4 linked regions of the Homo sapiens genome follow. The protein of the gene in region 1 interacts with the protein of each later gene in a pairwise test. Each region holds a gene or a part of one and is shown in the gene's direction. Other genes may lie near its edges.

Region 1 (7,345 bases):
CAACTCTAGACAGCTTTTTGTCAGATCTAAGAAAGAAAGAGTTAAAGGTGGTTGCAGGGCCTGCGCGTTTCCTCTTAGTCATCCTTCAGGGACCAGAGGCTGAGGGAGAGACTCACCAGGGTCATCCCCCACTCCAATCCCAGGCAGCACCTAGGAGGGCTGAGTCTGGCTGGAAGTGTGAGTACAGGCAGAGAGGTGCACAGGAAGCTGGTGTGTGTGGCCATGCTCATGTGTGAGCACAAGTCCATGCACAGGGGACAGCAGAGTAGCAGTGACCTCACCATCCATCCATCCAGGGGTTCTGAGAGCCTGGTCAGCAGACCTGGGTCAGGCTGCCCATGTCAGAATCACCTGGGAGTTTGCTGCAAATGCCAGTTTCTAGCCCTGCCACGGGAAATTCTCACTCACTAGAGAACCTCTTCAGTGGGTTCTGACGTGTAGCCAGATTTCAGAACCATTGATCTGATACAACCAAGGAAGGATATAACTTTCCCAAGGTCACACAGTGACTGGTCAGTGGCAGAGCTAGGACCACTCCAAGCCAGTGCTCTTTCTACTGCTGAGCATTTCAGACTGGGGACGTGTGTCTGAACCCAAGAGAAAATCATCTAAATCCTTTTTGATACATCCATAGATTTCAATGACTCACACCTCAGCCCCTGCTCATTTATGCAAACCACTGAGGACTGACATTACATATGTATTTTTATTCCACAATCTGAGTTCTTTTAAGTAAATGTGCTCCCACTTGGGTGCCCTCCCCACATCGTCTTGCTGTCAGGACACCAGCAAGTCCATTCCCCTCCTAGGCCTGCCTTTCCCCCATGCGTGCTGCTGAGACCCCAAGGGGACAACTCCTCAAACTCTAGCTAGGACCAGGCCAAGGGGAGAACAGGTTAGGCACGAGAAGAGCTGGGCCTTCTTTTAATGTAACCCAGAAGAGGTGGTCGACTATCCTGACTCACGTCAGATTCCAGGGGTATTGGTTTTTCAAACCAAGTTGAAAATAATTACTCAGAAATCCCTGTAGCTTAAGGATCTGAGTGTCAATTCCATTCAGCTCAACAACCATTTAAGTCTTCCCAGGCTCAGGGCTGTTGGCTTGGTGCGACCTCAGAGGGATGCCAAGTTGGATGAGCAAGGCACAGCAGCATCCCTGCCCTCCAGGTGTCCTCTGTCTCTAGGTTGCAATAAGTCATGAGCTTCTCAGCATTCTGAGCAACATGTCAGGCTAGAAAAATATATGCCCCTGTGGGCTGGCAGGACTCTAGCTGGATCCAGGAAGGATCTGGACTTATCCCATTACCAGTGCCTTGAACCCATGCCAGGAACAGAGTAGTTTTCTATCACCAGGGCTGGGCCTTTTGCAGTGGAACAACCTCTCCAGACAGACCCCAGCACCTCTCTGTTGGTGTGGTCCCTGACTAAGGATCTGTGATGTGAAAAAAGAAGGCAAGAGCCAATGAGCAGTTGTCCTCATTGCAAAAATGTTTATCTCAGGGGTACTTTTAAATGTCAGCTCTCTGAGCTCATGTAAGAGTTCAAAAAATAAAATCAGCCAGGAAGAGATGATGAAATCAGTATGAGGTCAGCCTGCAATGAGGATGAGTGAAAAATGGAAGTCCTTTAGGGTTTTATTTTCACACCATCCTTCAGGAGCCTATGTGTGGTGCATAGAGAAGTTACCTGTGATCTCTTTTTCTCTCTCCCCATTAAACCACAAACATTAGAAGCAGATTTTTGGAGGGAGGGCAATATGCATCACTTCTTTTGGCTTCACAAACAGGGGGATGGCTATAGCCACAAAGTTTGGATTGATCCTGGCCTGTCCACCAGGGGGTAATGCATCTGCAATGGAGTCCTCAAATCTCAAATTCCAGGGGTTCAGTGAATGAGTTAGAGACAAGAGGTCCCCTTCAGTTGGAACAGGAAACAACTGACCATCTGTTAGGGCTATACACAAATACAGAGAGCATCCTATACCCTACACATTGATATAATTTTAGTGTTTTCCAGACGGGGTTCTTTCATTCAAAAGAGTGGATCTGGGGGAACTGGCTTAAGAAATGCTGCATATAATGTCTTCCCCTTAGACATTCGTAAGGCACATTAGCATGTTAAGGCTCTGAGAAGTCCTGCAGTAAAGCAACCCATTTAACATTGCAGTGTGACTCAAACTTACCTAACCTTGGAACTTTTCCCCCTCATAGTACCTATTAGAGCATCATGGAATACTTTGGACACACTTGTTCCCTAGACCTCCATCCATCACCTGTCCAGTACAGGGAGCATCCTGAGTTAGGGAGTTGGGAGTCATGCCCATCGTTCCCAGGATACACTCTTGCCATGGGGAGCTGTGGAGCATCTCCAAGCAGACGGAGAGCTGCTGTGGCTGGTGCTGGTGGCACAGACCTCATTGTCATGAGTCATACAACCACTCCTGCCCACTTAGATCTAAAATACTTGGCAAAATGCGTGGTCATGGCTGCCTCTGAGACAGACTCCGTGACTAACTTCTCCAGAAAAGCAGTCGAAGTTAGTAAGCAGAGCCCTTGACTCCAGGTCAGCAAAGCTGTCAGACCACATCAGCTCTGTAAAAACTCCTTTTGCCTTGTCCCCTGGGGGTTGCTGGTTTTACCCCTCTGATTCTCAAAGGAAGAACCAGGCATTTCTGCAGGGTAGGAAGCTCGTCCCTGGCTCACCTGTCCATTGGTTGAGACAGTGATGTTCAGGGGGCTGCCTAGCACACAGGATGATGGAGGGCAGCCTAAGATGACACTTTGGAAAAAAAGCCTGCACAGATCCAGAGACCCATGGTTCCACCAACAGGCCCTGTCATTGAGTGTCTGAACTGCCCACGTCGACCACTCAGTCAGAACACCTGAATACGCTGGCTGGTTCAGTCCAGGATTCTGACCCATGGGGCCTCTGGGTGACAAGCACAATATAGCCACACCCTCAAAGAGGAACTCCCACTTCCCCTCCCAAATGTCCACCATGAATTATGTTAAGCCTTTGCTGTACAGCCTCTTGGGATCCGTTTTGCGTTGACTCCTCAATATCTGAAGAACTTCCTTTTCATAAGTCTTAGAACATCTCAAGTCTCAGAGGCTGCCCCTGACCTTTGATGTTGAGGGAGATGTGTGTCCAGGCCAAACCCTGCTTTTTATAACATTGACTATGACCTCTGTGATTTCTTCTTTCCAGGAAGAAGATATTCTCCCACGGATTCATTAGCCAATATTTATGTGTTCTACATTCCACAAATATTTACTGAGGGCCTGCTAGGTACCAGGCACTTCAAACAGCTGGAAATTGGGAACAAAATGGAAAATCATTGCTCTTTTAGGGCAAATAATAAGCAAAAATTTAAAAAGTAAAAAATACAGTGTGACCTCCAAAGTACTGTTCTAAACCCTCAGGGACCTTTTAGGGGGATAAGATATGTTTGTGTTCAGGAATTGTTGCTTACAAGGAATAGACTCACCCAAACTTGCTCAAGTGAAAAAGGGGGATAGTGTTAGGAATCAGATATCCTGCAGATATAAAGGGCAGGAAAAGAGCAATGAGCTCTAAAAGCCATCATCTCTCTTGGGTACATTCACATTCTCACCCATTTCTCTCCTTCCCCTTTTCTGCATTCCTTCCCTCCATTCCACCTTCCTTCCTATTCCCTTATTCTCTCCTCTCCTCTCTAAGAAGGCATGTGAGTAGGCAGAAGAAAGTTGGCCTCCCTACTACAAATAGATAAAAGATAGAGAGTAACTAGGACAGAAGAACAGTCTGACCATAGAAAGGGCCATTGGAGTTGGGAGGTAGGAGGATAACTTAGAGCACATTGGAATCAGGGAAGACTTTCTGGAAGAGGTGCATTTGCGCTGGGTCTTGGTGTGAACAGGATTTGGATGCTCAATGGAGAGCAGAGGCCATTCCCAGAACAGAGCACAGTGTGTACAGAGGCATCCAACTCAGAGCACAGAGTGAAAAGGGTCCCAATCACTCTACTTATCACTTTCCCATCCCCCATGAGGCCTTTAGTTGGGTTTCTCTGGCCCTCTTCAGGGTGGACAGGATTCTCCTGAGTCCCATTTCTTGGATCTGCAAGGCAGACTATAGGGGCAGTTGGGGTACAGCTAAGGAGGGGACCAGAGGAGGCAGGGATGGGAGAAATGCTGCCCAGTGGAGGTCAGAAAGCCACATACTGGAACCCAGGTAATAGCTGGAAGATTTAACCATCCATCCACCTGTGTAGTGACCTCAGTGTAAAGTCAGCCAGTGACAGAAACTTTAACCAAGAAGTTAGAGCATAGACGTGGGCCTCTAGTCTGCCAGCGATTTGCTGATGGATTCCTAGCATCAAGCAATTAACCGTTTATTTGGCTTCTCTGTGTTGGGCACTATAAAACAATCATCTTGTTGGTCATACCTGAGAACCTGCTGGTGATAGCATGGGGCAGGGCCTCTTGGAGGAGGTAGGGTGAGTTGCTTGTCATCTTCATCTGGGGGCTGTGAAAGGTCAAGGACAACAGGAGCCATTTAAGCATCTCCAGTGGGCCAGTGATTTCATATAAGTCATCTTGTATCAGCTTTATACCAAGTCTGAAAAGTAGAGATTTTCCTCACTTTTTAAGGAGGAAGCTGAGACTCAGAAGTTAAGATACCTCTGTGAGGTTCCACAGTCAAGTAATGGGGCTGGGACTTAAACTTAGTTCTTTCTGACCCCAAACCCCTGCTCCTGGCATGCCACCACGTGTGCCTCCCCAAGACTGGCGGTCCTGTGGCAAGTCCCTGGGACAGGTTTTGGGTGGGTCTAAGTGGCCTGCCCAGGGCACAGAGTTTTCCAGATTGGATGATGAGAAAGCTGCTGTTCTCCCTTACCGCAGGCCTCTCCTCTAATTCTACACAATCTCAATACCTCTAGTCCTCAAATCAGAAATTTACACTAAAAAGACAACCTATTGCAGGTTGCCTCTCACGAATTCAAACATGATATGGGTCAAAACACGTCCCAGAGTCTAACTGCCACATGCAATGTAAGCTAGAAATTTTGGGGCTTTCCCATAGTCAGATGCTGACCCAGGGGAAGGCCCTGTAAGCTGTGGCTTATGCTGCACTCAGGGCCAAATTCATGAGTCTGTTTTGCTGATGGTCCATCCTCTGCGTGAAGTATTGTCACCATTAGTCATTACCTGCTGGCCACCTAACGGATCTGGGGTTTGATACCTTGGGTACAAGTCCCTTCTAGGCAACTTACCTGTTATGTGATATTTAGCCACCCTGAGCTGTGGTTTACCTTATCTCTGAAATGGGGATAATAACAGTTGTTCCAGTGACCTTACAGTGCTGTCAAAAGGAATACATGAAGTAGCATTAAAGTGCCTTGTGACCTGCAAAGCACTGTCCAAGTGATGGGTATTATTGTTAGGACAAGTTTATGTTCAACTTTACAGATGTTAGTCTACTGTAAGCTCCCCAAGACAAGGACTTCCGTGTGAGAATGACTTTTACTTTTCACAGCCAACCACATTCACTTAGGGTCCAGATCTGTGGGTGGCATTGGAAACCTTAGCTGTAGCCTTGCCTGGGGACTTTCTTGCCCTGAAGTGTGGTTTTAGGCCAGAGATGCTCAAACTTTTGTGCAGAGATACTAATGGAGTAGGTCTGAAGTGGGGCCAGAAAAGTGATATTTGAAAGGCTCATCAGATGCTGCTGAATTGCAGACAAGGATGGATTTAAGGGAGGCCAGGCACAGAGGCTAGGACAGTCCCCTGGGAAGATGCTCTTTGGATTCTTCAGCCTCCTGGCATGTGGAGAGGGGAAAAAATGGGATGTGTTCCTCTTGAAGGGAATGACAAAGGGAGTCAATTCCCTGCTGTTGGAAAGCTGGGAGCCAGTGTCAAGAAAAGGAGGGTGATGTCAGTCATAGAGAAAAGCCTCATGAGGCCTTGTAGGCTGTGAGCCCCAGCCTCTTGGTGGCAGGTGGACTGGAAGCAGAGGGCCAAGATAGGCAGAAGGGCTGAGCTGGGCTGCTGCAGCCAGCATGTGGCTAACACGCCATGTCATTCTCTCTCTCTCTCTCTCCAGATTGTGTTCCGGAAGATCAGCGATGTGAAACGTGAAGAGGAAGAACGCATGAAACGAAAGAATGAGGCCCCCCTGATCTTGCCCCCGGACCACCCTGTCCGGCGCCTCTTCCAGAGATTCCGACAGCAGAAAGAGGCCAGGCTGGCAGCTGAGAGAGGGGGCCGGGACCTGGATGACCTAGATGTGGAGAAGGGCAATGTCCTTACAGAGCATGCCTCCGCCAACCACAGCCTCGTGAAGGCCAGCGTGGTCACCGTGCGTGAGAGTCCTGCCACGCCCGTATCCTTCCAGGCAGCCTCCACCTCCGGGGTGCCAGACCACGCAAAGCTACAGGCGCCAGGGTCCGAGTGCCTGGGCCCCAAGGGGGGCGGGGGCGATTGTGCCAAGCGCAAAAGCTGGGCCCGCTTCAAAGATGCTTGCGGGAAGAGTGAGGACTGGAACAAGGTGTCCAAGGCTGAGTCGATGGAGACACTTCCCGAGAGGACAAAAGCGTCAGGCGAGGCCACACTGAAGAAGACAGACTCGTGTGACAGTGGCATCACCAAGAGCGACTTGCGCCTGGACAACGTGGGTGAGGCCAGGAGTCCCCAGGATCGGAGTCCCATCCTGGCAGAGGTCAAGCATTCGTTCTACCCCATCCCTGAGCAGACGCTGCAGGCCACAGTCCTGGAGGTGAGGCACGAGCTGAAGGAGGACATCAAGGCCTTAAACGCCAAAATGACCAATATTGAGAAACAGCTCTCTGAGATACTCAGGATATTAACTTCCAGAAGATCCTCTCAGTCTCCTCAGGAGTTGTTTGAAATATCGAGGCCACAGTCCCCAGAATCAGAGAGAGACATTTTTGGAGCCAGCTGAGAGGTCTATTTAAAAAAAAAGTCAGAGACAGATACCTCCAACCCTGCCGTCACCACCACCCCTACCACATATGTCCACATGACCAACAATTTTCAAGTAGGCTTTTCCTAACAGAAAAAGTGGGGCCAGTGGCTTAGACGTGCTCTTTCTCTATCTGGAAAAAGATATGGGAAGGGTAGCGTGCCCCTACCCTGCAAGGTGGCAGCTGCATCTGAACCGTCTTTGCACAATTTTGGAAGAAGGGACATGCTGTCTAAAGGGTATTTTCCTTCATTTTTAATTTTTTACTACCATGATATTTGTAAAAGATTAAAACTACCAGAACAGAGCAGCAGCCATCTGGGGACTGGTGGGAAAGTGCCGAGAACCTCTCATGTATATACTATGCTGGGCTCCTTTGCCA
Region 2 (8,116 bases), on another chromosome or scaffold:
GGCGGAGGCTGGCGGGGAGAGCGGGACGCGGGCCCTGCGGCGGGAGGTGGGGCGGCTGCAGGCCGAGCTGGCGGCTGAGCGGCGGGCCCGGGAGCGCCAGGGTGCCAGCTTCGCCGAGGAGCGCCGCGTGTGGCTGGAGGAGAAGGAGAAGGTGATCGAGTACCAGAAGCAGCTGCAGCTGAGCTACGTGGAGATGTACCAGCGCAACCAGCAGCTGGAGCGCAGGCTGCGGGAGCGCGGGGCCGCAGGGGGTGCAAGCACGCCCACTCCCCAGCATGGCGAGGAGAAGAAGGCCTGGACCCCCTCCCGCCTCGAGCGCATTGAGTCCACAGAAATCTGATCGACCTGGGCACTCGGCATTTTGACACATGTCCTGTCAAAAGGCCAGAGTCCCCAGTGTCCCCTCCCCTCCATCTCTCTTCCCCATAGACCCCATAACCCCAGACCAAAGAGGTTCTCTAAGCAGCTGTGACCAGGTTCCTCCCTCCCCACCTGCCCTCCTAGCTCCAGCACTGCCCCCGTGGCAGCCCACTTGGACCCCCCTAAAAGGAGGGAATAGGAGGAGGGCAGGGTGAGTGGGGGCAATCCTAGGTGGTGGGGGAGTCATGCTCCCTTTCTCGGCACCCCCTTGTTGGAGATGGAGGCAGCAGACGTGCAGTGCCATAAGGTGCCCCAGTCCTTCTGGAGGCCTGGGCTGCTACTGTTGGCCACCCTGTGTCTAGTGATGCTCTCTGTGCTCACCTCCTAGGCCATGGAGCCTGAGGGGGCCTGCACCAGGTTTGCTGAAACTGACAGAGCCTGGGCTCCAGACCTCTCTCCCTCCTACAGTGCTCTCCCTCCCTGGGCAGATTGGCAGGACAAGTGGGAGCAGATGGCCTGCCTTTGGCTGAGAGGGCTACCTGCCCAGCCCCTCCCCCAACAAGATCTCTTGGACTCAGGCCTCAGAGCCTGGCCTGGTTGTGAGTGTGTGTCCCTGTGTGTGTGTTGCGGGAGGGGAGGACTGGGGCTGGAAGTCCAGCACCCAGGGAAGATCTGTCCTCCTGTTCTTGGGAAGCGTTGCCTGACGGCTTCTCGGCTCTACCCTCACCCTTCTGGCCAGGATCCCGCAGGGCAACAGCCCCATCTGCTTGGCTGACCCCACACCCAGGACCACTGTCCGGCTCTAACACAGCTATTAAGTGCTACCTGCCTCTCAGGCACTCTCCTCGCCCAGTTTCTGAGGTCAGACGAGTGTCTGCGATGTCTTCCCGCACTCTATTCCCCCAGCCTCTTTCTGCTTTCATGCTCAGCACATCATCTTCCTAGGCAGTCTCTTCCCCAAAGTCTCACCTTTTCTTCCAATAGAAAATTCCGCTTGACCTTTGGTGCACTGCCCACTTCCCAGCTCCACTGGCCCAAGTCTGAGCCGGAGGCCCTTGTTTTGGGGGCGGGGGGAGAGTTGGATGTGATTGCCCTTGAAGAACAAGGCTGACCTGAGAGGTTCCTGGCGCCCTGAGGTGGCTCAGCACCTGCCCAGGGTAGGCCTGGCATGAGGGGTTAGGTCAGCCAATGTCAGCTGCTTCTCTTGGGGCCCTCTCAGAGTCTATCTCCCCAAGACAGGAAGGGAAAAGCAAATTTCTAATTCACCAGCAATAAAAATTGGAGGAGGCTTGGCCCTCAGCCCTTATATCTCTCTCTTTTTCACTCTCTTCCTCCCACCCCCAAGACTGAGTTTTGGGGGGCAAGGTGGAGAGAGCTGGCAACTACTGTGAGCAAGTCCCCTAGCCCCTGACCAGCCTCCTCCCATGACTGGTGACTGTTTAATGAGCTGTGCATCCCCCACAAAAACATGAGTGCCCCTCTGTGTGGCCTCTAACCCTCTGCACAGCCCTTCTGGGTGGTCCTCACCAGGTCTCTGAGCTGGGTGGGAGGCCATCCTGGCGACCACTGCCCATTCCATTCACCCCTCACTGTACCTGCCCTAGAACCTGGGCCTAGGCCACAGGGGCAGGGAGAAGAGAAGGCATTAGTAAGAAAAAAATAGAAAAAAATATGAACAGACTCAGCTTTGGGACGTCCAACCACAAAAGAAATTATATATAAATATATATAAATATATATCTCTACCATATGTGATGGAAAGACTTTTTGTTTTCCTTTCCCAAAGAAATAAAACGGAAAAAGCCTCTTGAGTGGTATTCTTTGGCCTGCTTGTGTCTTTGCAGGTGCGGGAGGTGAGGCCCGGGTGGGGGATGGGGGCAAAGCTGGAGTAAACAGATTTCCCAGAGGAGGCATGAGACTGGAGGTGCTCACTGGGCCGTGCTAGGAGGTTGGCCCAAAGCCCAAGTTCTGCCACGTTGCCCGGGAAGAGTCGTGGTGCCATGTATATGCCCAGTGGGGCTTTCTCTTCAGCTCAGACTGTTGCCAAAGGGGTTAAAAGCTGGCTCCAGCTCAGAATCTGGACACTAAGCTGCTAGCCAGAAAACAGGTGACGCAGGACAGCTAGATGCAGCCTGCAGTCGCCTAAGCCACCTTACAGCAACTGGTAGATGTTTGCGGGCTGAATGGATAGAAGTGAAGACTGGGAACAGGTTTGCAATTAATGGCGAAGCCCCAAAGGCAAAAGGGACCCAAGCGTGCTGCACAGCAGAGAGCTTCCCTTTACAACAGTTCCTCTGTCATCCTCTCAAAGCACACAATCAAGAATGCACTCTGCTGTAAGTAATCAAAGGACCTCAAAGAGTGGTTTATTTTTCCCCAACCTGACAAGAAATCCGGAGGTGGTGTCATGGTTGTTGGATCCTCGGGGACCTAGATTTTCATCCTCCCACTGTTCCATCCTTGGCATGTTGTTCCCTCCTTACCACAAAGTGGCTGCCACAGCTCCATGAAGACATTGAGGCGGCCCTACTTTATCATGAAAAGTAAAAGCTTTCCCAGAGCCCTCCCAGGACCCTTCCCTTTAAGTCCTGTTGGCCAGAACTGAGCCACATGCTCCTCCCACTTCAAGGGAGAATGGGAATTTGAGTATTACAAAGAGAAACAGGATTGTCATGGCTGCCTAGGAACAAACATGGTTCATTCCTTGGGGGCAGGCTCTCTGCTTTCTCTGGGTTCTACTGGCAAGGACAGAGTCATAACAATGAATAGTGTTTGCCCTGGTCTGGCCTGAGGGAGAGAACCCTCCCTAAGCAGTGGTGTCTGTGGTCTGGGGCTCCAGATATTCAAACAGCGCTGTCTCCAGAGCTCAGGAGTTGGGATGTCAGGCTTGCCCCTCCTGGCAGGGACGTGTTCTTCCTACATTGATTTTGTCTTCCCTACAAGATAGGCCCTGGAGGGAGCATGATTTCTCAGCTCTCCTTCACACCCCTTAGAGCCAAGGCATTGACAAGATATGAAGACCCTGATCAGCAGATCTCAAGTGCCCTCAGGAATGGCAGCCTGGGGCCAGGACTTTCTGATAGGTAGAGGTTTAGTAGAGTCTCTTTCTTGTCTAGGTACCTATACTGACAGCTGTGTCAATATATGTACCCAGTAGGACCCAGCCCTCCTTCTTAGGGTGGTGGAGAATCACCCTGGCTCATGCTCCATAGCTCTGGCCTCGCTAAGCCCCAGCTCCACATCCATTTCTCTCAGCAGGCTCATCTATCCATCATGTCACTAGCTCTTTTCCTGAGAGCACTTTACAGATACATCTCTATTATAAATGCATTAAAAAAAAAAAAAGATGGAGTCTCACTGTTGCCCCGGCTGGAGTGCAGTGGTGCAATCTCGGCTCACTGCAACCTCTACCTCCTGCGTTCAAGTGATTCTCCTGCCTTAGCCTCCCAAGTAGCTGGGGTTACAGGTGCACGCCACCATGCCCCGCTAATTTTTTTTTGTATTTTTAGTAGAGACGAGGTTTCACCATGTTGGCCAGGCCGGTCTCCAACACCGGGGATTACAGGTGTGAGCCACCACACCCGACCAATGCATTGTTAAAATTAGACAGGTGTGGTGGTGCATGCCTGTGGTCTTAGCTACTCAGGAGGCTGAGGCAGGAGGATCACTTGAACCCAGGAGGTTGAGGCTGCAGTGAGCCATGATTGCACCATTGCACCCCAGCCTGGGCAATGGGGCAAGACTTTGTCTCAAAAAAAAAAAAAATGTATTGTTTTTCTCACTGTACAGGCTTAGAGAATTTATGTGGGCCGGGTGCGATGGCTCATACCTGTAATCCCAGTACTTTCGGAGGCTGAGGCGGCAGTATTGCATGAGCCCAGGAGTTCGAGACTAGCCTGGGCAACATAGGAAGACACTGCCATCCCCGTCTCTATGAAAATAATAATAATAATATAACAAGAATGAATTTATGTGACTTCTCCAAGGCCATAAAACCCTGAGTGGTGGTCCTCAGATTTGAACATGTGTCTAAGCTACTTACTTTTTTTTTTTTTTTTTTTTTTTTAGATGGAGTCTCGCTCTGTGTCCCAGAGCTGGAGTACAGGGGTGCCCAGACTGGAGTACAGTGGCGAGATATCGGCTCACTGCAACCTCCGCCTCCCGGGTTCAAGCGACTCTCCTGCTTCCGCTTCCTGAATAGCTGGATTATAGGCGTGCGCCACCACGCCCGGCTAATTTTTGTATTTTTAGTAGAGACGGGGGTTTCACCACGTTAGCCAGGCTGGTCTCGAACTCCTGAACTCAGGTGATCCGCCCGCCTTGGCCTCCCAAAGTACTGGGATTACAGGCGTGAGCCACCGCGCCGGGACTAAGCTGCTTAATGACTTCCAGAGCGATCCATCCAGGAAGGTGTTTTCCCTCTGCAGGTCCTAGACTCCCCCTGCCTCCTCAACAACGTCCTCCAGTGGAAAATGTCCTTGGGAAACGCTGACAGAGTCTTTTGAGCCTCGGCCGCATCCGTCACTCGCGCAGCAGGCGGAAGTAGCGGGCAGTTGGCCGGAAGTGGGGCTGTGAGGCTCGGAGTCGCCGGAGGAGCCAGTATCTGTGTCGCCGCCGCCCGCGGCGTCCCCGGTTTGGTGTTGCGGCGCCCACCTTCGGGAGGATCAGGTGAGTGGCGGCGGCCGGGGAGGAGGTCGCGGCGGCCTCTTTCCGCGTTCACGACCGTCCTGGGCCTTGGCCTGTGCCTCCTGTCCTCCCGGCCGGCCCAGAGCTGGAGCGCATCGAGGCCTTGTTCAGCTCTTGGCCTGGGTTGCCAGTGCCTCTCGCAGGCCTGGCTGTGGTGAGAACTTCAGTGACTCTCGCCGCTCCTGAGTTTGTGATCTTTGGCAGGGGGCTTATCTGACCCTTGATTTTTTTTCCTCTGTGAAATGGAGATCGTAACAGTACTTGTCTCACGGTGCTGTTAAGAGAATGTAGTCAGATATTCTGCCGCGCCTCTCATCACACTTTGATGTGCCTGCGAATCGCTTAGAGATTCTGATTCTGTAGGACTGGGGTGGGTTCTGAGATAACTGTGTTCCTAACTAGATTCCAGACGAGGCTGAAGCCTCTGGCACGCAGACCACACACTGAGTAGCAAGGCCCTACAGTATGTTGCTTAGCATTTGGGATGCGGAGTCTTCGGTAAACATCAGTATGATAGGATATATACCTTCCCCCCATTTTTAGCAGTTTCTCGTTGCACAAGCCTAAGGGTAGTATTGATGGCCTTCTCCCTTTTTCTTTCCGTGGGTAAGAATAGTTGCTCTTTCTCTTTCTGTGCAAACCGTGACACAGCTCTTCTGTCTTGACTCAGGGAACTTTGGGTCCCCTCATATCAGCTGTGTTCATCAGTCTTGGGTGATGCTTCACTGATCAGACCCTTGGACAGTGCTTCATCCTGTGGAGCTGATAGCCAGCTGCGTTAGCACCAACTGTGGCTGGCGTTTTGTGCTCCAGTCATTTGTTGCTGCTGGAATCTGAATTCACGTTTTCTACACTTTGTGAATAGTAAGAATGGCTGCCTTTCCAGAACTAGATTCTGTAGCTCACTGACCTGAATGGTCCTGGGCAAGTCCTTGGATAGTTTGCTACTACCTGGTAGACTAAAATAAAATCTGGGCCGGACACAGTGGCTCACGCCTGTAATCCCAGCACTTTGGGAGGTCAAGGCGGGCGGATCACGAGGTCAGGAGATCGAGACCATCTTGGCTAATATGGTGAAACCCCGTCTCTACTAAAAATACAAAAAAATAGCTGGGCGTGGTGGCGGGCGCCTGTAGTCCCAGCTACTCTGGAGGCTGAGGCAGGAGCGTGGCGTGAACCCCGGGAGGCGGAGTGTGCAGTGAGCCGAGATCGCGCCACTGCACTCCAGCCTGGGCGAGAGAGCGAGAGTCCGTCTCAAATAAATGAATAAATAAATAAATAAATAAGTAAATAAAATCTGAAGACTCTGTGCTGCATAACATAACTTAAAAAGTGAGGCCTTTGGCAGTTATGCAGGTCTAATGTTTATTAGTCAGTATGATTTTCTTCCCCATCCATTGGTTTATTTTTTTAGTCCCTAATAAGGCCTTGCCATTCATCATGTGAATAAGTCAACTTTGATATAAAATAATTCTAAGGTCAGGTGCGGTGGCTCATGCCTGTAATCCCAGCACTTTGGGAGGCCGAAGTGGAAGGATTACTTGAGCCCAGGAGTTCGAGACCAACCTGGGGGCAACATAGGGAAACTCTGTCTCTACGAAAAAAACAAAAAACAAAAAAAACACACAAAAAAACAAAATGTAGCCAGGCGTGGTGGTGGGCTTGTAGTCCAAGCTACTTAGGAGGCTGAGGTGGGAGGATCGTTTGAGATCCTTGAGCGATCCTCGCCCGGGAGGTTGCCGGGGTGAGAGGTGGGGGGCAGTGGTCGAGGATGCAGTGAGCGGAGATTGCACCACTGCCCTCCAGACTGAACAACAGAGCGAGACCCTGTCTGAAAAAAAAAACAAAAGAATTCTGAAACTCCTTCTTTATTTGTCTGAAGTATGTACTATACAGCCTCTATACAGCCTTGCAAATTGTAAAAGCAGATAAAACCAAGTGTTTATTGAGCTAACAGTTATAGGTACTTGGACCATTTATTTGGGAATTTTCTCTTATGACGACTGTGTGCATGCAGCTACTTCTCTTTACCTGCCTGGATTTTGTAATTCCTCTAGAAGCCCCATTTAGATGGGCTGAGAGGACATGAGTGCCTACTGCCTGTTGTTATATGGAGAGGTTTTCTAAAGACAGGGTTTTATGAAACCCTTTAAAAGCAGTAGCTCTAACAGAATCATCTACAGGGCTTAGTCATACTATATCTACCCACATCCTTCTTGCCATTCTGATAGAGGAATAGCAGAGTCTTAAAAGAGAAGCGGAAGGGCTGTGTAGCTGAAAAAGTTTCACAAATGTTTGTGATGTGCTGTTTTTCTCCTATCAGCATGGAGTCTAGAACAAAAAGGAAGGGATGGATTGCTAGACTGAATAATTTTAGTTTGGCTTAGACCTGCGAGTGACACTGAACTTGACCTAAACACCTTTGCACTAGTGCTTCACCTTCGCAGTACTGGTAGACTCCTCTCTGAGGCCCTGCTCCCGTGTGGAAACAGAAACACAGAAGAGTCTAGCCCAGTTAACATCCACATTAACAGCTAAGGTCCTTACTGCCAGTCTCTAAGCCCTCACTAGGGGCTTTGAAGTTTTGTAGATTCTCAGCAGAATACCTCAGCACCTAGAGAAAGTTCGGTTTTTTTGCCCTTTTTTTTTGGTAGAGACAGGGTCTCGCCATGTAGCCCAGACTGGTCTTGAACTCCTGGCCTCACGTGATCTGCCTGCTCGGCCTTCCAAAGTGCTGGGATTATGGTCATGAGCCACCTGTCTAGCCAGTTTTTTTGCCTTTTTAATTCTTAAGGTTGCTCAACAAATTATTTGCTGAGACAAGAATAGGGTTGGAGTGTTCATTTATTTGTGGCAATTTTATTGGGACATAGAAAGGAAAAGTGTTAGAATTGAGGGATCAGATCTGGTAAGTGGTAAATTGTATGTGTTTAAGGTGTCTTATACTCAGTCTACAGTTAGCATCGCTCCTTCCTCTGCCTGGCCCCCCTCCTCTAACTTCTAGACTCTAGTTTAAAATGAAGCTATTCGGCTCTGCTCAGACCGGTATGTGGAAGGGAGAAAGGTAAGA
Region 3 (7,759 bases), on another chromosome or scaffold:
GCAAGTTTTAAAGTGCACACAAAACACCAAACACAGTTTTCAAGAACTCATACAAACAAAGCAATATACAGGCCGGGCGCAGTGGCTCACACCTGTAATCCCAACATTTTGGGAGGCCGAGGCAGAAGGTTCACTTGAGCCCAGGAGTTTTAGGTTGCAATGAGCCATGATCATGCCACTGCACTCCAACCTGGATGACAGAGTGAGTCCCGATCTCTAAAAGCAAAAGCAAAAACAAACCCAAACAAAACAATATACGGTTGACACATGACAACCATTTCCTATGGGCTAGTGGGAGGGGAATGCAGATAAAAGGGAATTTAAAAATGAAAAAAACAATACAGAAGAAAAACAAGTAACAAGGTTTTCTGTCTGTTCCTGGCCTTGGCAAGAGAGGTGTGTGGCTCCACGAGGACAGGGACCATATAAATTACTCACCCTCAATTCCCAGCACCAACACCCATGCTGAGGCACACAGTAGATGCTCAGTAAACATCTGGAATGATTCCATTAATCAATAAATGAACTGATGGAGAAAGGACTTTGCAGAGAGGCTGCTCTGGTATTTGGATAGCCCGTTGATTTTGGAGTCAAACAAGAGATTCCCATATCTGGTTGTGCCAGCACTTGCCAGCAAGATATTGGGCAAGACACCTTCTCTCGGAGCTTTAGCTTCCACATCTATAAATAACCTCATCTCTTATTTACAGATGTGGAAGCTGATGGATGTTATACCTTCAGAGGACTACTTGTAGTAGGTGCCCAACAAACATGCATCTCCACTCCTTGGTTATATGGAGTAGAGAAGAACCGCACTTCTAGGTGTTATTTTAGCTGTACCTGGAAGGCACCGTAATGCCTGCAGTAATGCCTGGAAATTTCACCATTATAGAGTCATTTTTTCCCTCTCATCAGGAAGGATTTATTGCTTTCTGAAACCTCCTGTGGGAATGCCCAGATCTCTGGAGAAAAGTTGCCTTCAACAGATTAGGCTTACAGAGGGGCCAGCTGAGAACCCTTTCTGACCCTAGGAACACCAGACTGAAGCAGGAGGGAATGTGATTGTTCACTGTCTCTCACACCCCAGGTCATTTGCACTTGCTGTTTCCTCCACCTGGAATGCATTTCCCTCATTCTCCCCATGGCTAGTCCCTTCTTATCTTTCAATCTCTATTAATCTCCTCTGAGACACCCTTCCTGACCACCCTGTGTAACACTAGCAGCTTGGTCTCTCTTTTTCCACCCCATCATGATGTTCCATTTCCTTTATAACAATCACTGTAGCCTGAAACTCTCTCTTTAAAAATTTACTTTTTTAGTTACCTGTCTTCCTCCACTGGTCTACAAGCTCAGAAAGGGGGGCGGGCTGAATTAGGGCAATAGGCCAGAAGTTTAGGTTTTAGTCTAAAGCAAGGGAAAGTCTTGGGAAGGTTTTAAGCAGATGAGAAACATGGTCCAACATTTCATGGTCCATGAAATGTAGCAGTTGTTTTGGTGGCCATGGGGAGAATGAACTGTAGGAGGCCAAGATGGGAGCCAGGCATGGGAGCCAGGGATGAGGCCAAGATGGGAGCCAAGTTGCAGGGAGGTTGCAGGGAGACAAGACGATGGTACCTTGGACAAGGGTCATGATGGTGGAGATGATAAGTGGACAAGTAAAAAATATATAATAATATTATGTGCAACTCTATGGAAATTATGGAAATGAACCCCTTAATTTTAGAAAGGAAGAAAAGGGCCAGAGAGGAACCTGTGTTGGAACACTGTATCTTGTTCAGTTTTTGTCCTCCAGGGCAGGGGAGCTCACTGCTGTACCCATCCCCGGCACTTTTTTTTTTCTTTTTTTTTTTTTGCAACAGGGTCTCACTTTGTTATCCAGGCTGAAATGCAGAGGTGCAATCACAGCTTATAGTGGCTTTGACCTCCTGGGCTCAAGTGATCCTCCTGCCTCAGCCTCCTGAGTAGCTGAGACCACAGGTAAGCAGCACCATGCCCAGCTAATTTTTTATTTTTTGGCAGAGATGGGTCTCACTATGTTGCCCAGGCTGGTCTCCAACTCCTGGGCTCAAGCCATCCTCCCGCCTCAGTCTCCCAAAGTGCTGAGATTACAGGCATGAGCCACTGTGCCCGGCCGCTGACACCTATTTACTTATCATGCAGTAAATGAATATTTGAAAGAATAAATGAGTAAACACAAGGCCCATCTGTGGCATCCTTAGAGAACCCTTGCCTGCCTCTCCAGGTACCTCCTCCAGTTTTCATTTCTGGGATTATGTGATGGGTTTTGCCTCCCCCACTGGATGGGGAGCTCCAGGGGGAAGACTTTCCCTTCACGGAGCCTGGCATTCTGCTTGCACATAGGAAGCTGTCAATAACCAGATGTCCAACTTAACATGAATAAATGAATGAATGAATGAATGAATGAATCACCAGACTATATAAACCAGCTCACTCTTCACCCTCTCTTCCCCATACCTCGCTTTATTTTTCTTCTTAGCGGTTATCACCACCTGCCACATTGCATATGTACTGATGTATTCATTGTCCGCCTCCGTCCCCCACCCCCGACCCCCCGCTAAAATCTAGAATGGAAGCTCATGAAAGCAAGGGCTATTTACAGTTCCGATCTGCCCCCTCCCACCCTCTGACCCTTCCTCCTGTTTCATTATTTCCCCCAGCGCTTGTCACCGCCTCATATATCCTTTCGCTTTTTTGTTTATGATCTGTTTCCAACCAGCTCCACGAGGGCCGGATGTTTGTGTTTGATTCACAGCTGTATCTCAGACGCCTGTCACCGTGCCCTGCACCGCGGCTCGCGCACAGGAGGCGTTCAACACACGTTGTTGACGGGACGAAGGAAGGCGGGATCGCGAGGCCAGCTGTGCAGGTGGCCTGGGTGGAGAGGGATGCACGGCCACGCGCGTCTCCTTGGCCCGATCCCGGAGCCCGCCCCCGGCCTCCCCGGCAGGCTGGGCCGGGCAGGCAGGAGTTAAGCCGCGCTCGCTTCCGACCCGCAGGTGGCGCCGTCCTGCCTTGGTGCCCGGCTCCGGGCGCTCCGAAGTGCGGGACAGAATAGCAGCGAGCGCGGAGCCGAAGCTCAGCCCCGACTTGTTGATCTCGCCCAGGCAGCCGCCGCCGCCGCCGCCGCGGGAGCAGGAGGAGGAGGAGGTGGAGGAGGTGCCGCGCGGCCGCGGTCCTGCCCCCGCGCCCCCGGCGCCCGCCGGCGCCCCCCGCCTCGGAGAGCGCGCCCCGGCCCCGCGGCGCCTGCAGCCCGGGCGAGTTGCCTGCCCGGCCGGGGTAGGCCCGGCTCAGCCCGGCCCCGGGACCGCCGCTGCCCACGGGCGGGGGCGCCCGGGCGGCCGGGACGATGCGCGGTCCCTGGCCCCAGGAGGCGGCCGCCCTGGGGGTGAGTGTTGGGGCGTACGGCCTTCCGTGGGGGTGCATGGGGACACGGACAGGGGGTTTGCCTGCCGCAGCTCGGCCTGTTGGTCTGCTCGGGCTCCGCAGCTCCAGGCTGGAGGGGAGCGGGGTGGGAGGCAGGCAAGGGCTGAGGCCTGAGGGGACGCGCAATCCCCATTCTGGGGCTAAGGCGTGAGCCCTACATGCAGGGGGTGCTCAGGGGAACCCCCCGAAATCACTAGTGCGCGGTAGGAGGATGGCACCTTTTGAAAAGGCCAGAAAATTTAGCTCATTTCCCCGCCTCCCACCTCCCCCACCCCTTCCCTTCCAAGCCCGGGGAAAGGCGCAGAACCCGGAGTTATAAAAAGCCATCGCGGGAGAGGAACGAGGAGGAGGAGTAGGAGGAGGAGGAGGAGGAGGAGGAAGAGGAGGAGGAGGGGGAGAAGGAAGAGGAGGGGGAGGAGAAGGAGGAGAAGGGGGCGGGGAAGGAGCGAGGGGAGGACGGAGCAGGCGGATCCCGAGGACTCTGCCCGCCCCTCCTGCGGTAGGGTTGGGGGCTCAGAGGGAGAGGCGAGAGCGGGCTTTTCCTCCTCGCGGCTCACCTTGTCGCTGGAGCAATCTCAGGAGATGCTCCAGTGTTTGGGAAGAGGGGTCGCTCCAGGACAGAGGGGCTGTTGTGCACACCCCGTCTGTTGTGACCTCGGACAGGTGGGCACCTGGAACCCCCGGAATTCCCCCAAATCTTTTAAGATTTGGAAAAAAGCCCGCTGCCATTCCCCCACCCCCAAAATCTTGATTATCTCGAGAAGGGGAAGGAAAAGAAGAGAACTCGTTAAAAAAAAAAAAAAGAAGGAAAGAAGAAGAAGAAAGAAAGAAAAAGATAAAGAAAGAAAGTTTTCATGCAGCTCCCCCTCTCTCCCCATGGCGGGGCCAGGTTCGGGACTCGATCGGGAGACCCATAATGAAGAGAGTTTCAGCACTCTAAGGGGCGGACAGCGCCCCGGGCGGCTGGGTCGCGCCTGGGCCGCAGAAGCCCAGGGTGGGGCCTCCCGGGCTCCAGGGGCATCTCTTGGGGCCCTCTCCCCGCCCCGAGGGGCGGCCCCTCCCTCCATCCATGGGGTGCGGCGGACTTCAGCACCGGCGGGAGGGACAGCGACCATCCGTCCTACCCCACTGAGCCGCTTAAGCGCGGGGGAAGGTCAAGGCCGGCTGGGAGCCTGGTGGAGAGGTGGGGGGCGGGGGGACAGCATGCCCAGCTCCCCGTTTGCTGACCCGCGTCCGCTTTCGCTTTCTGCCTCGCAGCCGTCGGGATGGAGGTGAGAAGACGGCCGTGACGCGCGCCCGCGGGGCCCCCTGCACCCCCAGCAGCCCACAGCGCTCCCTGCCCCCCTCCCCCGCAGCAGCGGGCCTTGCCGTCGAGTGACAGCGGCCTGGGGGGGCAGGGGGGGCGGGGGCGGCCGGATCAGCGATGCCGGCGGGCATGACGAAGCATGGCTCCCGCTCCACCAGCTCGCTGCCGCCCGAGCCCATGGAGATCGTGCGCAGCAAGGCGTGCTCTCGGCGGGTCCGCCTCAACGTCGGGGGGCTGGCGCACGAGGTACTCTGGCGTACCCTGGACCGCCTGCCCCGCACGCGGCTGGGCAAGCTCCGCGACTGCAACACGCACGACTCGCTGCTCGAGGTGTGCGATGACTACAGCCTCGACGACAACGAGTACTTCTTTGACCGCCACCCGGGCGCCTTCACCTCCATCCTCAACTTCTACCGCACTGGGCGACTGCACATGATGGAGGAGATGTGCGCGCTCAGCTTCAGCCAAGAGCTCGACTACTGGGGCATCGACGAGATCTACCTGGAGTCCTGCTGCCAGGCCCGCTACCACCAGAAGAAAGAGCAGATGAACGAGGAGCTCAAGCGTGAGGCCGAGACCCTACGGGAGCGGGAAGGCGAGGAGTTCGATAACACGTGCTGCGCAGAGAAGAGGAAAAAACTCTGGGACCTACTGGAGAAGCCCAATTCCTCTGTGGCTGCCAAGGTGAGTCTGGGATCTGGGGGCTGCTGGTCTGGGGGGATCTGCTTGCATCCCCATATTGAGGACCACTGCTGGAGGACTCTGGCTTTGTTCCCAACGATGAAGATTAGTAATGGGGAGGGGCTAGGACTGAGTCCCCAGAGGTGAGGACCAACCCCCTCAGACTTTTCCCATGTGGCACTGGTCACTCCATCTTTTTATTATCCAAGACGTTATACCCCTACTTGGTTGGAGAGGTTTCACAGGGACCCATAAAAAGCCACAGCAAGAAGATGGACACTGACGAATAAGAGAGAGAGCACAGAGAGACAACAGTGGCTTGCTGGGGTGGAGTAGGGTTTGCTTCCCTGTGAAGTCCCAGACCTAGGCTGGATTGGATCACCCTGTGATTTTAATATCTCCATATTTATAACCTCACTCTGCCCCAGCAAGGGAAAAAAGCAGCTTACAGACATGCTTACAGGACATTGAGATACTGTCAGATAGTTTAAACATAAGTAAGAAGGGACCCCGAGGGGTGGGTGTGGACCCACACGACACATGCAGTTGGTTGTGGATGCTTGCGGGTGAGGGGTCACCCCCTGGTTACTTATTTATTTGGTGAGTTTATTTCCAGAATGGTTTGGTGCAGCTTGTAAAGATGTTTCAGCTCTTGGAACAAGATGTAAATTTCAAAATAGGAGAGAAAAATGAGGCAATGTGAAAAATAAAGGAGGAGGAGGAGGAGGAGGCAGGAATGAGTTTGAACACAAAGAGTGGGCCAGAGAGTCTTTGGTGCTGCTGGGTAATGGCAGGGGCTGTAGGGGACTGAGGAAGGCTTGGGGTGGGAGCCAAGGCAGGGCAGGAGGGCACTGGTTGATCAGCAACTTCTCTACGTCAGGCTGGGATTTGGGGTTGCCTGGGAAAGATGGGGCCTGTCTTCATGTGCCCGAAGTGCTGGGTGCTGGGAGCAAATGACAAAACAGTGTGTGCAAGGCTATAAAAGAGGTTCTGTGAGGTTCACGGAGAACCCAGAAAAGAGAGATGTTGATGTTGAAATCCAGCAAGACCAACTTGGGAAACATGGGGAGAATGTAACTGAGTGTGGGGCCTAAAAAAAGGGGTCAGGTAAGTAGATTTGTGGTAAAAGAAAGAGGAGAGGAGGAAGCCTAAATATCCAGCCATATCTTACTAGCTAGGGCTGACTCCTGTCCAGCCCAGCCTTTCATTGTGGGGTCTCCGGCTCAGTTCTCACTGAAGGCCCACCTGCAGGTCCCAGTCTGAAGGGAGACTCCGTGGGGTCCTTCCTCCAGATCTAGCCACCCAAGGAGAGGCCCCTGAGAGTGGATGGAGAAGGGGTGGCTGGTAAGAGGGTGGAGGGAGCCCCCACGTGTTTTTTTCGTTTCCCTGTTGGCCCTAACAAGGATGTAGAGGCTCCTGGGCCTGGCTTCCTCCTCTGAGGCTGTGGGCTGTCTCTCTCCATAATCCCGCCCCCAATTTTGTGTCCAAAAAGCCTCCTCCTAAGACAGAGTCACTCACCCTTAATCAGCTTAGGATCAACAGACTTATTTTGCTATTTCCAGGCATGACACAGGTTCTCCCACTGCACATCCCATTTAGGCCCAAATGTGACTCTCCCTCCCTGTCCCATCCCTAAGACATGAGAACAAGGTACAGGGAACTGGACAATTTGCCCTCCCAGAGAAGAAGCAGGCACAGGGCCATGTTTTGGTCTGGCAGCAAGACCCAAGCACCGGGGCTTGCAAGAGGTGCTGTTTGGGAATAAAGAACCTCTCCTCTCCCTTGGGTTAATCCGCTAGCAGGGACAGCCTTGTGACCTCTCCATGATCCCAGTCTGGGGCTGCCAGCTCACATTCCTGGCAGATGGACCATCTAGGATTTTCTGTAGCCAGAGCTGAAATGGGGAGGGAGGCAGGCTCACTGGCCCTCAGAATAGAAATCCTGGCTGCCAATGATCAAACACCTACTGTGTATGGAGTGTAACAACGCAGCTCTGTTATTATCCCACCTTTCGCAAACAGTGAGGCTGAAAGAGGTTAAGTAACTTGCCTAAGGTCACACCACAGGCAGTCAGGAGTAGCCAGAAATCCAAACCGAGTGTTCTTTCTATAATGATCAAGTGCCGCAGCCTCCTCCCCAGTCTCCCGGCTTCCACTTTTGCCCCTGCAATCCATTCCCCACATAGCAGCCAAAGTGAGCTTTTCAAAATGTAAATTGGATCACATTATTCATCTGCTTAAAATCCTCCAGAAGTTTCCCATCACACTCAAAATAAAATTCAGACTTTTCATCCTGGCATACAAGGCCCAGGCAGAATCTGGCCCCCAT
Region 4 (7,174 bases), on another chromosome or scaffold:
CCTTTTTGGTGATCACTGCTAGGGAAGAGGCTTCTACCGACACCTAGTGGACAGAGGCCTGCTAAATATCCTGCAATGCACAGTACAGCACCCGGCCCCAACCCTGGCAAAGGATTACATCTGAGCCAAGATGTCAACAGTGCAGAAGTTGAGAAACCCTGGTCTAGACACCTTCCAAGAGTATTCTTCACCTTGGCCCCTTTCTGGACTTCCCATGGCCTAAGCCATGTTGGTGCCCCTGCCCCAGAGTTTCCAAGAAGGAACAGCTAGCTGTATACCTCGCTGCAGCTCAGCCCAGGTTACCAGGGTCACTGCTCAACCTACAGATCTGTGGCCAAGGTCGCCAATTTCCCACTACGGCATCTCTGGATTCAATCTTCCCTGACCATTGGAGGCAGGCGGTATGGTCTAGGGAGGGGATGTCTGCCACCCCCACGGCTTACCATCAGAGCAGGGTTACTATCCTCAAAGCCTTCTCGGTCAATACCCAGCTTAGGTTAGTTCCCAGCCATGGCCACAAGATGGCACCCCAGCCCACCAGGAGGGCTGAGGCTCTGGGCCTGGGAGAGCAGCATGGAGGATGTGCCAACCTGGACAAAAGCCTAGGGGCTGGACTTGGGCCAGTTCCAGAGCTTAGCAGGACCAGATCTAAGGCCTGCAAGTGCCAGGTGGGAAAACATAGGCCAAACTTGGCTTCAGAACTCCCTTCACCTTTTTTTTAGTCCACTCCCAACACCAGCTTATATTCTAGCCTTTCCTACATGAAGCTTACTGAAGCCCAGCAATCCCTCCTTGGGCCTAAACAAGAGAAATTCTAGAACTTAGATGTTAAGGATACAGGAGTTATTATTATTATTTCAATACAACAGTAAAAGCAAAAAACGAGGCACAGAGAAGTTGAGTAACTTGCCCAAGGTCACAGCTAGTCAGTACTGGAGCTGGGATTTGAATCCAGGCAGTCTGGTTTTAAAGTCTGTGCTCTTAGCCACTGAACATACCACACCACAACTGCTCCCACCCCCACCAGCCCCAGCTACCAAAGACCCTCTGGCACCAGACCACAAGCTTTCTTCTGCAAGGGAGGGGCAAATGGCTGCGAATAGGAGGTGCTGCTCCAAAGTGGAAAAGGAGTGAGGTTTTCAGTCTAGCTGGGGGTCTGTCGTTAGTGTTTGCGAGTGAGAAGCTAGGGAATGGTTAGTCATTCTTCCTCCTATTTCCCCCCAAAACCCTCTGTTTCTCTGTTTTCTGGTTTTTGGTTTTTGTTGATTTCTTCTGTGTTGCCCTCTTGGTTTTCCTAGGCTGTTTGCAAATGCTAGCATTCTCGCAGTGTGAAGGGGAAGTGAGAGAAGAAAGTTTGATGTCCTGTTCAGGATCCACAAGGGAGGCCATTCTTTGGGGCCTGGGCTGGGGGTGTGTCATCAGGGATCAAAGTGAGAATCCTAAAGTGGAACAGTGTGGGGCACATTGGGAACAGCTACCCTCTCCTGCTGGGGAGGCTCCTGTGTCTGAGTTTTCTCTGCTTACCTCTTGGGGGATTTTAGGGTGTAATGGGCTTTAGGGTGCAATGAATACCCTTTCACATTCCTTCTGCCTCCAACCCTGGCCTACCTCCCTCTTTCTAACACATCGTCCAGAGCCCCTAATCACCCAACCTTCTGCCTACCAGGAGCCCCTTGTTTCTCTCTGTCTCTCTGTGCCCCCTCCCCAACTGCCTGGGTCACACTGCAGCCCCCTATTAGGACTCGCCATGGCGTAGTGATGGGGCCCTGCACTGATTCCCTAAAAAACCCTGGGTAAGTCCCTCCTCCTGACTTGGTCTCCATTAGGTGTTCCAGACTCCCACAGTCTCTGCCACTTGGGTTCTAGGATCCCAGCCTCTCTCCTAGCCTTTCTCAAATCATCTGGACCTTAGTGAGGATCTACTGTATTCTGGGCACTCTGGAGGGAAGCAAACAAGAAGCCCTGGAGGAGCTGATGGTCCTTTTATGGAGATCAGATGAGCTATGGAGAAGATCAGGAGCCATACTCTGATCCCGTGTGGTTCTGCAGGTGAAGAGAGAGGTGAAGTCCTGGAACCCTATGGCTAGTAGAATCCCAGAAGATTCTTGGGTGAGAAGAGGGGCTGGACATCTGGGTAGAAAGAAAGGAAGGTTTGGAGAGGCTGCTTTCTTGTCTCTCCCCATCTTGATTTCTCCCAGCTGTGTGTGTGTGTGTGTGTGTGTGTGTGTGTGTGTGTGTGTGTGTGTGTATGTGTCTGCCTCTGTGTCCACCTTTTTCTCTTCCTTCTGGATTCTCCATTTCTATTTCATCTTCTACCAATGTTGGGACAGAATTTCCTGAGAACCCATGTCCCGGGGATCTGAATATGGGCCAGGATGGGCCACACCAGGCCGGGCCACACCAGGCCAGGCTTCCTTGTGGTTAGGAGATGGGGACTCACACTGGTCAGGGTGAAAGGGACACTCAAAATCACTCTCATCCCTGCATTACTCTGAGATTGAAGGGGAAACAGCTCCTATTTAGAGGAATCACACAGATCAATATCTGGAGGGAGGAGGTGCCATGCAGGCCCCAAAATCCAACCCTCTCTTTGTCTCTGCCCAACTCTGCCCATTTCTGACTTAATTTAGCCTCTCTGTCTCTCCCCTTGTCCTATTCCCATCTGTCAATCCTTGCCCTGCCCCTCTCCACCCCTTCAAGCCTTTTACCCACCACACACAGATTTTCCTGTGGCTAGATTGGGATTCCCCTGGCCAAGTAAGGAGAGCGATGTCTGTGGCACAGCTTTGTCCCCAGGCTCACAACGGCATCTGTGGGTCAGGGTAGAGGGACAGCTGTCTGCACAGTTAGAAAGTGCCAGCAGTAATAAAAGCCTCATATCTTCTTAATTAAATCGCCCTTTGCCCAGGCATCCTGTGTTCGATTGGGTTGAGCTGGGATCAATAAGCCTCTTTCCCACCCCAGCCACCCCTGGAGACGGGCCTGACCTCCCCAGTCCTGCCTAGGCCCACCTGGCCACCTCCCCAGAAGGCTGGGAGCTTCTCAAGGCCAGAGGCTGGGTCAGATTCATCTCTTGTGTCCTTGTGCCTGGGACGGATCCTGAAACAAGTAAGGAGTAAAGGAGTGATTGCTTTACTGAGTAAACCAAGGCACTAGCAGCAGGCATGGGCCAGGAAGGCTTTGAGGTTCAAACTGGAACTCCCACCCCCAGGACCAACTGTGAAGATGGAGGAATCACAGCAAGCAGCAGCTCCCACCCAGCTCCCAGACATAACACCAGCTTATCACCCAGGGCAGTTGAAGCCCTAGGAAGTGCGGGGTGGGGGTGTCAGTGCTCAGGGAAACTACGAGCAGTTGCTGCTTCTGACCTCTGAGGGCAGAAGGTCCTTTTCATAAGGGGTCTCCACCTAGGGATCCAGGGTTAGTGTGGGAGAGTCCGTGAGCTTGGATGGATGTGGCACTCATGGGAGACTCCCTCTGTCTGAAGCTATAAAGGGCCCAGGGTCAGTAAGGAGTCCAAAGGGGTTAATAGGGGTCCAGGATTGATTGTTAGTGGAGGGCGTAGAGGATAACGTGGTGTGTGTGTGTGTGTGTGTGTGTTGGGGTTCATGCAAGACATTACCCATGGAAGGAACATGGGGCCTCCAGGTTCCGCGAGAAGGGTCGGTATTAAAGGATTCCTTGGAGCGGTCAGCACTGGTCCGGGCCAGGGTGTCTCTGATGACAAAACTCCGGGAGAGCTTTGTCTCACCAGGGATCAGATGGTCCCTGGTTTGGAAGGCAAGGGGAGGGTGCCAACGCCCTTCTCACCTCAGTCTGACCCGGGGGCGCGGGCCCAGACGTCTCTCGGAGCCCCCGCCCCTGGAGTGGCGTTCCCCGAGGGCGGACCGTGGGCGGGTCCCCCGGGAGCAGCAGGAGCCGCGCGGGGCGGGCGCCCCCAGCGCCGAGGTTGAGGGAGGCCGGGCTCGGTGCGGGGCTGGGAGGGGGGCGCGGAATCAGGGCTTTTTAGGACCCAGCGCGGCGCCTTCCTCCGGGGGCGAGTGCGGCTGCGCGCGCCGTGTGCCCGTGTCCGGAGAGCGGCGGGCTGGACGCGGACCGCGCGAACGAGCAGGCGACGGGCGAGCAGCAAGCGGAGCAGCAGCCCGGGCGGCAGCAGCGTCGCGGCGGCGGCGGCAGCGGCCGCTCCGCGCCTCGCCTCACCGGCCTCGCTGGCCTCACCTCGCCGCGCCCGGACCCGCCACCCCCGCCTCCCCGCCCGACCTCCGCAGCCCCCGTCTCGGCCGGCAGCGCCCACCGCCTGCCCGAAGCGAGGAGCGGAGTGCGGGGCGCAGAGGCACCGGAGCCAGTGCCCGCCGGCCCCGCAAATCAAACCCAGCCAGGAGAACCCCCGCCTGGCCCCGTGCAGCTCCGCGACCGCCGGGAGCTGTCCCTTCAGCACCGCCGCGGGAGCCCAAGTCCGAGCGCAGCCCAGCGGAACCCCAGCTCGAGCCCGGGCTCACGGAGAGCAGCGCTCGGCGTTAGCCGCACGAGCAACACCCCGGGTGCCCCTGCCCAGGGGGCCCGCCATCTCCTCCAGGAGGCGGGGAGAAGGAACGAGGAGGGCGGGCGGGCAGGCGGGCCCGCCGCCGGGGGGAGCAGGCAGCCAAGCAAGGAGAGAGGGAGGGGGCCGGAGCCCGCCCTGCGTCCCGAGCTGCAGCCCGGCCACGCAGGGAGGAAGGCAGGCGGCATCCATCTCCCCCGCGCCGAGAGCGCGCCGCGGCGACCACCTCACAGAGGAGCGCGAATTTCCCGGCCCTGTCTCCTCCCCTCCCCCTCCTGGGGGCTGGCCTCTAGTCCGGCCCCGGGAGCGGCTGACCTTTCCCCCAAAAGCTTTGTGCCGATTTCTCCATTTTCCCGCGGAGATGGGGACGGGAGCCCGGCCCCCCAACCCATTTTCCCCACCTCCCGGGGCTCGCTGCTGAGCCCGCCCCCCTCCCTCTTTCCCCCTCACTCCCTCCCTCCCTCCCTTTCTCCCTCCCTTTCTCCCTCCCTTCTTTCCTCCTCTGCCTCCTCCGCTGCCGGACCAGCTCCCTCCCACATCTGGCTCCTAGAGACCCCTGGGATCCCGCGCACATTCCCCTGGACCGGCACCCGACAAAGCGCCCGGAGAGGCTTGGCTCGCTCGTTGGGGTGGCCAGAGCCGCAGGCCTCTGTTCCCCCCGACGGCTGGGGGGAGGGGGGAAGAGGGCGCGCGCCCCCCTCCCCGGCGCCAACTCCCCCTGGCGGCCGCTCCCATGGGTGTCGCTGGGCCGCGCCATGCCTAAGGGGGCGCCGCGATGGGCCAAGGGGACGAGAGCGAGCGCATCGTGATCAACGTGGGCGGCACGCGCCACCAGACGTACCGCTCGACCCTGCGCACGCTGCCCGGCACGCGGCTCGCCTGGCTGGCGGAGCCCGACGCCCACAGCCACTTCGACTATGACCCGCGTGCTGACGAGTTCTTCTTCGACCGCCACCCCGGCGTCTTCGCGCACATCCTGAACTACTACCGCACGGGCAAGCTGCACTGCCCAGCCGACGTGTGCGGGCCGCTCTACGAGGAGGAGCTGGCCTTCTGGGGCATCGACGAGACCGACGTGGAGCCCTGCTGCTGGATGACGTACCGCCAGCACCGCGACGCCGAGGAGGCTCTGGACAGCTTCGGCGGCGCTCCTCTGGACAACAGCGCCGACGACGCGGACGCCGACGGCCCTGGCGACTCGGGCGACGGCGAGGACGAGCTGGAGATGACCAAGCGCCTGGCGCTCAGTGACTCCCCGGATGGCCGGCCTGGCGGCTTTTGGCGCCGCTGGCAGCCGCGCATCTGGGCGCTCTTCGAGGACCCGTACTCGTCCCGCTACGCGCGGGTAAGTGACAATTTACCCATCAGAAGAGCGGGGCGGGAAGGCAGCGTCCTGTGCCTCCCCGCGGGCAGGGGTGGACCGGAGAACTGGCGCCTAGGGAGTTCAGAATCGAAAGGGGGTGTGTGCGCATGTGTGCACGTACCAGGGTAAGAGAGGAAGGGTGTCCGCCGGGGTTCTGGTTTTCTATGTATGTCAGTCTGTGTGTTGCCAAGTTTAATATGTATGAGTATGAATGGGTGTGTTTGTGTGTATGAGTAGATTGTGTGTGCATATTTATGTAAGTGTGGTGGTGTGTATTTGGGTGGGTAAAGTGTGGAGTGGGAATGAGTGAGCATGTGTGTATGTTCGAGTGTGCATGAGCGCCTGCCCGTGAACATTTGTGTCTTTGCAGAGGTGCACTGTCAAAGTATGGACTGCTCTCGAGATTTCAGTGTGGGGAGGGAAGCTGGGAGCCCTTCCTCCTGTCCAGGTAAAGGCGCATCTGGAGCCAGCCATGGTCCCCCAAAAAGGCCTGAGGCCTGCTGGGCAGCTTGAGACAGACACCCCCTCCTCAGGGAGCAGCCTCCGGCAATTTTGAGGAAGTGGTCAAGAGGGCATCTCCATGGCTAATCTCGGTGGCTTGGAAGTTGGTGGAGGGCTGGGCTGTAAGGTAGGGGTGGTCCGTCTGAGCCCCCGATCCTGAGATCACAGCCTGTCCTTCCTCCTTGTCGAAAGCGGAGGGTGTTGGAGTGGGTCACTGGGCTTATGCCAGTGCTTCCTCTGGGACATCCCGTGGTGGGGAGAGGGGGTCGGTCCTTAAGGGTCCTTAAGGGGGAACCTGCAAGGAGAAGGTGTGTGAGAGGTGGGCGTGTCTTCATGGGCCACTCCCCTATAGCCATACCAGCTTGTTCCTAGGAAGAAAGGACACGCTGCTGCTGACCTTGGTCCCTCAGATGGCCTCTCTGGATCAGTTTCCTTATCTGTAAAATGGGGGAGGGGGCCTGGTGAACTCTTAAGGGCCTTGCTGCTGGAACATCAGTGACTGAGCCCAAAAAGAGGAACTGGTAGCAGCCACCCACCCTGGAAGAGACACTCCCAGCCTTCACTGGGCTCTGTCCTTAGAGGCCTAAAGAGAGACCCTAAGGCCTGTGGGGGAAGGGCAGAGTAGAGAATTTAAAGCAGAGCCCCTCCTGCATCCCTGAGCTGCCCTCACCCCCTACCAGGCAAAGCACTGCCTCTGCCCTGCTGTCTTTTACTCCGCATCTCTCCCCTCCTGCGCACTGGAGCCTGAGCCAGAGCCAGGGGTAGAGGGC

Evidence for each region.
Region 2: the proteins of KCNH1 (region 1) and FASTKD5 interact in binary tests that used the Homo sapiens proteins (3 or more experiments, as listed by UniProt).
Region 3: the proteins of KCNH1 (region 1) and KCNB1 interact in a two-hybrid assay, tested with the Homo sapiens proteins (one study listed by BioGRID).
Region 4: the proteins of KCNH1 (region 1) and KCNC1 interact in a two-hybrid assay, tested with the Homo sapiens proteins (one study listed by BioGRID).

Annotation. Positions count from the first base shown.
Region 1 is NC_000001.11:210,682,878-210,690,222, reverse strand, and holds part of KCNH1 (voltage-gated delayed rectifier potassium channel KCNH1), read left to right. Parts: intron 1-6,084; coding exon 6,085-6,942; 3' UTR 6,943-7,345. UniProt on the Homo sapiens protein: Pore-forming (alpha) subunit of a voltage-gated delayed rectifier potassium channel that mediates outward-rectifying potassium currents which, on depolarization, reaches a steady-state level and do not inactivate.
Region 2 is NC_000020.11:3,156,678-3,164,793, reverse strand, and holds the start of FASTKD5 (FAST kinase domain-containing protein 5, mitochondrial), read left to right. Parts: upstream 1-4,928; 5' UTR 4,929-5,028; intron 5,029-8,116. Other genes in the region: LZTS3 (leucine zipper putative tumor suppressor 3), read left to right, coding at 1-340. UniProt on the Homo sapiens protein: Plays an important role in the processing of non-canonical mitochondrial mRNA precursors.
Region 3 is NC_000020.11:49,479,589-49,487,347, reverse strand, and holds the start of KCNB1 (potassium voltage-gated channel subfamily B member 1), read left to right. Parts: upstream 1-4,679; 5' UTR 4,680-4,867; coding exon 4,868-5,434; intron 5,435-7,759. UniProt on the Homo sapiens protein: Voltage-gated potassium channel that mediates transmembrane potassium transport in excitable membranes, primarily in the brain, but also in the pancreas and cardiovascular system.
Region 4 is NC_000011.10:17,730,688-17,737,861, forward strand, and holds the start of KCNC1 (voltage-gated potassium channel KCNC1), read left to right. Parts: upstream 1-4,093; 5' UTR 4,094-5,315; coding exon 5,316-5,885; intron 5,886-7,174.